Linked DNA regions of Homo sapiens. The protein of the gene in region 1 purifies or fractionates together with the protein of each later gene. This does not show direct contact. Each region holds a gene or a part of one and is shown on either strand. Other genes may lie near its edges.

Region 1 (3,500 bases):
TGAAGCAGTTTGACCACCTCCAGATGGTTGAACTGCACAGCATCATCCAGGGGAATGTTGCCCCACCTGAGAGGAATAATGATATGATCAGGCAAAGGAGACGTGGAGAGTGGTGGTTGTATATATTTGCATGGTGGCTGGAGGGTAGGTGGAGAAGCTGTGCCCACCCTCCTCCACTTTTAGCCTATTCCTCACCTGTCCTTGGCAAAAGGATTCACTTTGCAAGCCTCGATCAGGAATTTAACAACTTCGATGTGTCCTAGGAATATGGGCAGAAGGAAAATGAGAAGGCGCAGGTCTTGAACCCTTTGGTGCAGACACTTAGCCACTGAAGTCTTTACCAAGAGGGGAGGGGAAAAGGCCTCTTCCCATTTTGTACCCTGCAGCACTCAGTCATAGTCTAGCTGCAAACCGAAGGGTGTCTAGATAAAACTAGTTGCTGCCCCTATAACCTTGAGGGCACATATAATGAAGGTACTTTTGGTGAAAAAGAAAGGGTCTTATGATTACCCTCCTCCTCCCCTCCTTAACCCTTCAGTACCTTCAGCTGCAGCAACATGCAGAGCTGTGCGCGAGTCATAGTCTTTCTGTTCCATATCCATGGCTGACAAGGCAAACCTGAGGGTAGTGGGAAAGCAGCTAGAGTTGCCTAGATCAGACTGGAATCACAGGTGTTCTTTGTGAACTGGTGTCAGACTGGATGAGTTTCAGAGAAAGTGAAACAGCCTATAGCCAGATTTGTTGGCTCTGAATAATCTTTTTTCCATATCCAGATGAGACTGTTATACTCATATTAGAGAGATGGGAATGTGATCCTTCCAGAAATATCACTCACTGCCTACCTGTGGTAAGTGCCCATTTGAGGCAGGGTACCTACTTCCTAGGACACTGCTCTTAACACTCAATAACAATGGCTAACATTAATTATCATAGAGCAGACAGTTTACTTTTTTTAAAAAAAATCTCCTTTTTTAAAAAAATTTCATTTAAATGCAATCTATATCCATTCTAATTCCAAAGCTGAAGCACTTAACTATTTTGTTACGCTGCCTCCTAGTAAAATCTCTGACCAGGAGTATTTTATTGTGTATATTTGGTCACAGTAGCATTACCTTCGAAGAGCTGAGACATCGCCACTATAGGCAGCAAATAACAGGTTGACCACAGTCTTGTTCTGGAACACAAATCATACCCACATGACATTAATTGAACTCACCTATGCCAGCTGTGCCCTGTGACCCTCCTCCATGGATGCTTAGTCCAAGGGTATTGCTGAAGTGTTATGGAATGTGCTACTCTGAAATATTCTTTTTTTTTTTTTTTTTTTTGAGACGGAGTCTCGCTCTGTCGTTCAGGCTGAAGTGTAGTGGCGCGCGGTCTTGGCTCACTGCAACCTCTGCCTCCCGGTTTCAAGCGATTCTCCTGCCTCAGCCTCCCAAGTAGCTGGGACCACAGGCGCGTGCCACCACGTCTGGCTAATTTTTTGTATTTTCAATAGAGACCAGGTTTCACCGTGTTAGCCAGGATGGTCTTGATCTCCTGACCTTGTGATCCGCCCGCCTTGGCCTCTCAAAGTGCAGGGATTACAGGCGTGAGCCACCGCACCTGGCCTTTGAAATATTCTTACAAGCCACCTGGAGTTTTCCTTACCCGAATTTCTGCCCCTTCACGCCGTGGGTCTAACTTCCGAGCACAGTGCCTCAGGTTGTCATAGTTGTGGAAATTGAAGAGAGACACCAACTTCTAGAATTGTAAGCCAAATATATTGTTTATTTACTCCTTACACTTAGTAGGAGCTCAAAATTGCTTTATTATAGTAAAAGTGGTACCATTAAACAAATTTATTGCTTCAAAAATAGTAAGTACTATATGCAAAGCATCTCACCTGGCAGAAGCTGGTCCCCCTATGGCTGTTCCCCAGCTTGTCCAATGGGGGTGACAGGCACATCATTCCCATGACATTGGGTACCACCAGGAGGATGGCTCCTGATACAGCTGACTTGGCTGGCAGGCCCACCTGGGGAACAGAACTGAAGCTGAGGATAAAGTGGGTGTGCCCCAAATCAGAAAATAAACAAGTTAGGCTGTACTCTTAACAAGTTTACAAATGACTGCATGACCACAATCCACCTCAACCTTTTGGCTTGTTAATTAGCTTCTTTTATTACTCCTGTCCTTTCCTTCCCTTAAATTCATTGATTCAGCTAGAAAATATTTTTTGAAATACTTACAGCATTCTGTGCTAGATGCTGTGCTAGAACTAGGAACTTCCATTCTGGTGTTAGGAGATAGGTAATAAACAGGTAAATAAATAGACACGTAATGTTTAAAGTAATTGTGATAAATAGTGAGAAGTAGGGTGCTGTAAATAGAGGTAGAGGGGGGCCACATGAGATAGGGTGGTCAGAAAAGTCTTTCTTTGGAAATGACATCTAAGCTGAGACCCCAAGGAGAAGAGCCAGCAATGTGAAGCACAATTCAGGAGCTGCAACACCTCTGGTTGTTTTTCTTTTTCTTTTTTTCTTTTTTTTTGAGATGGAGTTTTGCTCTTGTTGCCCAGGCTACAGTGCAATGGCACAATCTCGGCTCAGTGCAACCTCTGCCTCCCAGGTTCAAGCACTTCTGCCTCAGCCTCCCAAGTAGCTGGGATTACAGGTGCACACCACCACCCCCGGCTAATTTTTTGTATTTAGTAGAGATGGGGTTTCACCATGTAGGTCAGGCTGGTCTCGAACTCCTGACCTCAGGTGATCCACCTGCCTCGGCCTCCCAAAGACATCTCTTTATATATTCGAGGAACTTGGTGTTTTTGAGAAACTCGTCTAAGGAGTCTCAACCTAATTGCCTTCCTGGAAGTTAGTGAATGAGAGGCAGGAACAAGCTTCCACCTCTATCTTGAGAGAGTCAGTGTTCTCTCTTCTTAGCACTGGGCTCATGACAGATGGATAGCAGAGCCAGAAACTCACGTGGAAGGCAAACTGGCCAGAGAAGTCATACATGCCGCAGGAATGCATGAGGCTGAGGGTGTTGCGCACTGCTTCAGCACTCAGCACACTCTCGCCTGTGATGGGGCAGATCCCACCGTTGGCGAGGGTGGCTGCCATGACACTGCCTGATTCACAAGTGACCTCCACAGAACACAGCTATGAAAACAAAGAATAGGTGAAGATGTGACGTGAACCTGCACATGGGACCCTCGGGTGTAGGGAAAGGGCAAGGGCAAGGACAGTCTGTCCTGTTCCCTCGGCCCTGAGCAGTGTTTTCTTACCTGGAAGTAGAGATCAAGGGCAGCCATCATGTCCACCCCCTTAGGAAAGCACTGCAAGGAAGAGAGGGGAGAGCATTTCTCTTCAGGACATCAGCCCTTTCACACTGTCAGGGTCTCAGCTGAAGCCCCCAACCCCTACTGCCCTTCCACTAGCAGCAGAATTCCCAGGGACTTTCTCTTCCGGCCTCTTCTGGTTACCTTCTTTTCCTTGAGATAATAGCCGATGGCATAA
Region 2 (3,500 bases), on another chromosome or scaffold:
AAAAATTAGCCGGGCATGGTGATGTGCACCTGGAGTCCCAGCTACTTGGGAGGCTGAGGTGGGAGGGTCGCTCGAGCCTGATCGCTTGAGAGGTGAAGAGTTGCAGTGAGCCCGCTGATCACGCCGCTGCACTCCAGCCTGAGCAACAAAGCAAGACTGTGTCTCAAAAAAAAAAGATCACAGCTGTGCTATTGTCTCTGCCATTTTTAGCTCTGTGATTGTGGGCAAGCTAATTAACTTCCCTTCTGATTTTAAAGTAAGAAGAATGTGAGGAAAAGCAGTTTAAAAACTGTAAAACTTTAAGTAGGCTTAAGCTCCAGGGAAATTACAATGCGTTTCGATTGGAAAGGCTTACCTGAATACTTGGTACCTAACCTCTCTTGGATGACCAGTCAATATTGCTCAATGTTTGAGGCTTTGTGCCTGTATCCAAAATGTACTGATAGAAATCACTTTCTAGGTCACAGGTTATCAGCATGAGTTTTGCCCCTAGAACACTCCTATTTTCATCTACTCGATTCCTTTAAAAACATCAGAGTTCTTACAATATGTGTGTAGTCTTTACCATTTTAAGAAATGGAATAATGAAAGGCATGGAGGAGTTGAAAGATGGTTACTAATGTGGGGCTAATCAAATTGAGTATTCCCTCTAGGCCAGGTGCCGTGGCTCACACCTGTAATCTCAGCACTTTGGGATGCTAAGGTAGGAGGATCACTTGAGCTCAAGAGTTGGAGACCAACCTGGGCAATATGGCACAACCCCATCTCTACAAAAAACTAGCCAGGCACGGTGGCACACACCCATAGTCCCAGCTACTCGGGGAGGATCACTTGAGCCCGGGAGGTAGAGGCTGCAGTGAGCCGTGGTCACGCCACTGCATTCTAGCCTGGGTGACAGAGTGAGACCCTGTCTCAAAAAAAAAAATTGTATCCCTCTAGGAGGGGAACAACAGACACTGGAGCCTACCTGAGGGTAGAGAATGGGAAGAGGGAGAGAATCAGAAAAAATAACTGTCAGGTACTATGCTTATTACCCAGATGATGAAATTATCTGTACACCAAACCCCCAGGACATGCACATGTACCCGTGAACCTGAAATAAAAGTTAAAAAAACCTCCCATGCCTCTGCCCTTCAGATGCTAGTAGCACCTGCTTTCCCCCAGAGTTTCAACAAACAGAAATGTCTCCATAAATTGTCAGTGTTCCCTAGCTAGGCAACCCCTTCCTCTCTCTCTGGCTAAGAATAACTTTCCTTGTGATCTGGATTATAAACTTGTCTCAAGCAATAGATACATAGTTTTCATACCTGTGTTCTTTAATCTGTACTTCATTTTCAATCTCAAAACTAGCATTGTAATTGTAAAATGAACATAATTTATTACATTTTTAAAAAAAAAATTGAGTATCCCTGCTCCTATATTTAGATTGTTTAAAAATTCAGTATTTTGAAATTGTGTTTAGAATTCTTAAAAGACAGAGGCTGGAGGGCTGGGGCTGAGGGAGGGTGGTGGGCCTGCGGGGACATTCTTACTGTGCAAACATAGCGATAAAAACATGTCATTTTCCAAAGCAAAAACAAAAACAAAAAAAAAGAATTCTTAAAAGGTATACCAGAAGACACAAGTCTATGGTTTCTGAGTTTCTATGCTTAACATTTTAAAGAACTTGAAAAATAAGTGCTTTTCACACCATTTAACAAGAATGATGCTTTCTCTCCTTGTGGTAGGGAGCAATGGGCAGTGGCTTTGTTATGATTGAGGGTCTTGGAGGATACAGACCATTGTTTTTTCTTTTTCTTTTTCTTTTTTTTTTTTTTTCTTCCTGAGACAGGGTCTCTATGTAGCCCAGGCTTGTCTCAAACACTAGGCTTAAGTGACCCTCCCACCTCAGCCTCCTGAGTAGCTGGGACTACAGGCAAGAGCCACTATGCCCAGCCAGACCATCTTTTGAAAAATGAAAACTTTTCCAGAAGTGTTCTCTTTTATAATCTAGTATGTCCTTGACATTCAGGGTATTCCTTTCACTCGGCAGTTAATGACAGTGATGTAGATAGACAGGTGGCTGCATGTTTTCAGGGTCTGAATTGTGGATAAGTAATAATGAAAGCTTTCTTCAGGCCCAGTTCAGAAGTTGGTTTAAGGTATCTGTGCTTCTTACTATTGCCTAGGTACTAGGAACAGCCAAGCAACCTAGAGCCACAGCAACACAAAATGAGAGGCAAGCTATTAAAAGAACTGGCACCAACACTAGTGAGGGGGAAGGGTGATAATGGCAGTGTCTCCTGATTCTCTAGAAAAAACTATGCAGTAGTAATTGAAAAGCAGAAAAGGGCCGGGTGCGGTAGCTCACGCCTGTAATCCCAGCACTTTGGGAGGCTGAGGCGGGCAGATCACTTGAGGTCAGGGGTTCAAGACCAGCCTGGCCAACATGGCAAAACCCCATCTCTACTAAAAATAAAAATAAAAAAATTAGCCGGGCGTGGTGGCGGGTGCCTATAATCCCAGCTACTTGGGAGGCTGAGGCAGGAGAATCGCTTGAACCCGTGAAGTGGAGCTTGCAGTGAGCTGAGATCGTGCCACTACAGTTCAGCCTGGGCAACCCAGTGAGACTCTGTCTCAAAAAAAAGAAAAGCAGAAAAGGTTGGTTGGAGGGTTGTGGGTTATTGTTAAACTGATTAACATTGTCTCCCCCCACAGCCATGCTTGATTTGCTTTGTATTTAAAGAGAAAGAAAAACAGAAAGGACCTGCATTTGGTCACAAGGTCTTACGGCTGCATATGCTCCTTGAATTCTCTACATACTGGCCTCACCAGGCTCTGTACTAGGATGCAGGATGGTTACAAATAAAAGTGGAGTGATAATAATTTAGTAACGATGACTATTAGCGAACATCAGGCACTCTGCCAATTTAGGTTTTGAGTGTTTTTTTCATCATTAGACCAGCCCTGTGAGATAGGTAGTTTTATGGCCCCATTTTACAGATAAGGAAAGTTGATGCTTGATTTACTTGCCAGTGCTCACACAGCTGGCAGGTGGCTGAGCTATTATTTGAATCCGTACAGTTTGCCCAGTACTGAAATTACCCAAGGCAAACTATTAAAAGAAACATTACAAGAAATAAGAGCCTGGGAAATCCAAAAAACTGGAAATAATCTGCCCTTTAATAACAGAGAATTGACTGTACACACTAATTAATTACAACGATTGAGACTGCAGCAGTCTTTAACTTGTCAAGGGAGCATGAATTAAACTCTGTACTGCCATCAAGTGTGCCCCATGGAGGAGTGAGGTGTATGAGTGCTGACTAGCCACAAGTACATTAAGAGAACCTTTGTTGGGAAAGAAATGTTCATGAGGTAATTCACGAGTTTATCAGCATGGTGAACACGGAGAACTTCCATGGTACCATACTGAAACATGTGGCTGATTCACAGTGGATGAGTGATTACTAGGAGAACTTGAGCGATTCTCCTGCAACAACCCCCAGCTCCTTCTCACC

The links. The genes of interacting proteins can lie anywhere in the genome.
Region 2: the proteins of SPRYD4 (region 1) and GOT2 purify together in Homo sapiens (co-immunoprecipitation; one large-scale study listed by IntAct). This does not show direct contact.

The regions. Positions count from the first base shown.
Region 1 is NC_000012.12:56,471,578-56,475,077, forward strand, and holds part of SPRYD4 (SPRY domain-containing protein 4), read left to right. Parts: coding exon of another isoform or gene 1-66; 3' UTR 67-195; coding exon of another isoform or gene 196-259; 3' UTR 260-541; coding exon of another isoform or gene 542-618; 3' UTR 619-1,112; coding exon of another isoform or gene 1,113-1,174; 3' UTR 1,175-1,650; coding exon of another isoform or gene 1,651-1,743; 3' UTR 1,744-1,885; coding exon of another isoform or gene 1,886-2,017; 3' UTR 2,018-2,966; coding exon of another isoform or gene 2,967-3,143; 3' UTR 3,144-3,268; coding exon of another isoform or gene 3,269-3,319; 3' UTR 3,320-3,466; coding exon of another isoform or gene 3,467-3,500. Other genes in the region: GLS2 (glutaminase liver isoform, mitochondrial isoform 1 precursor), read right to left, coding at 1-66, 196-259, 542-618, 1,113-1,174, 1,651-1,743, 1,886-2,017, 2,967-3,143, 3,269-3,319 and 1 more.
Region 2 is NC_000016.10:58,727,817-58,731,316, reverse strand, and holds part of GOT2 (aspartate aminotransferase, mitochondrial isoform 1 precursor), read left to right. Parts: intron 1-3,500. UniProt on the Homo sapiens protein: Catalyzes the irreversible transamination of the L-tryptophan metabolite L-kynurenine to form kynurenic acid (KA). As a member of the malate-aspartate shuttle, it has a key role in the intracellular NAD(H) redox balance.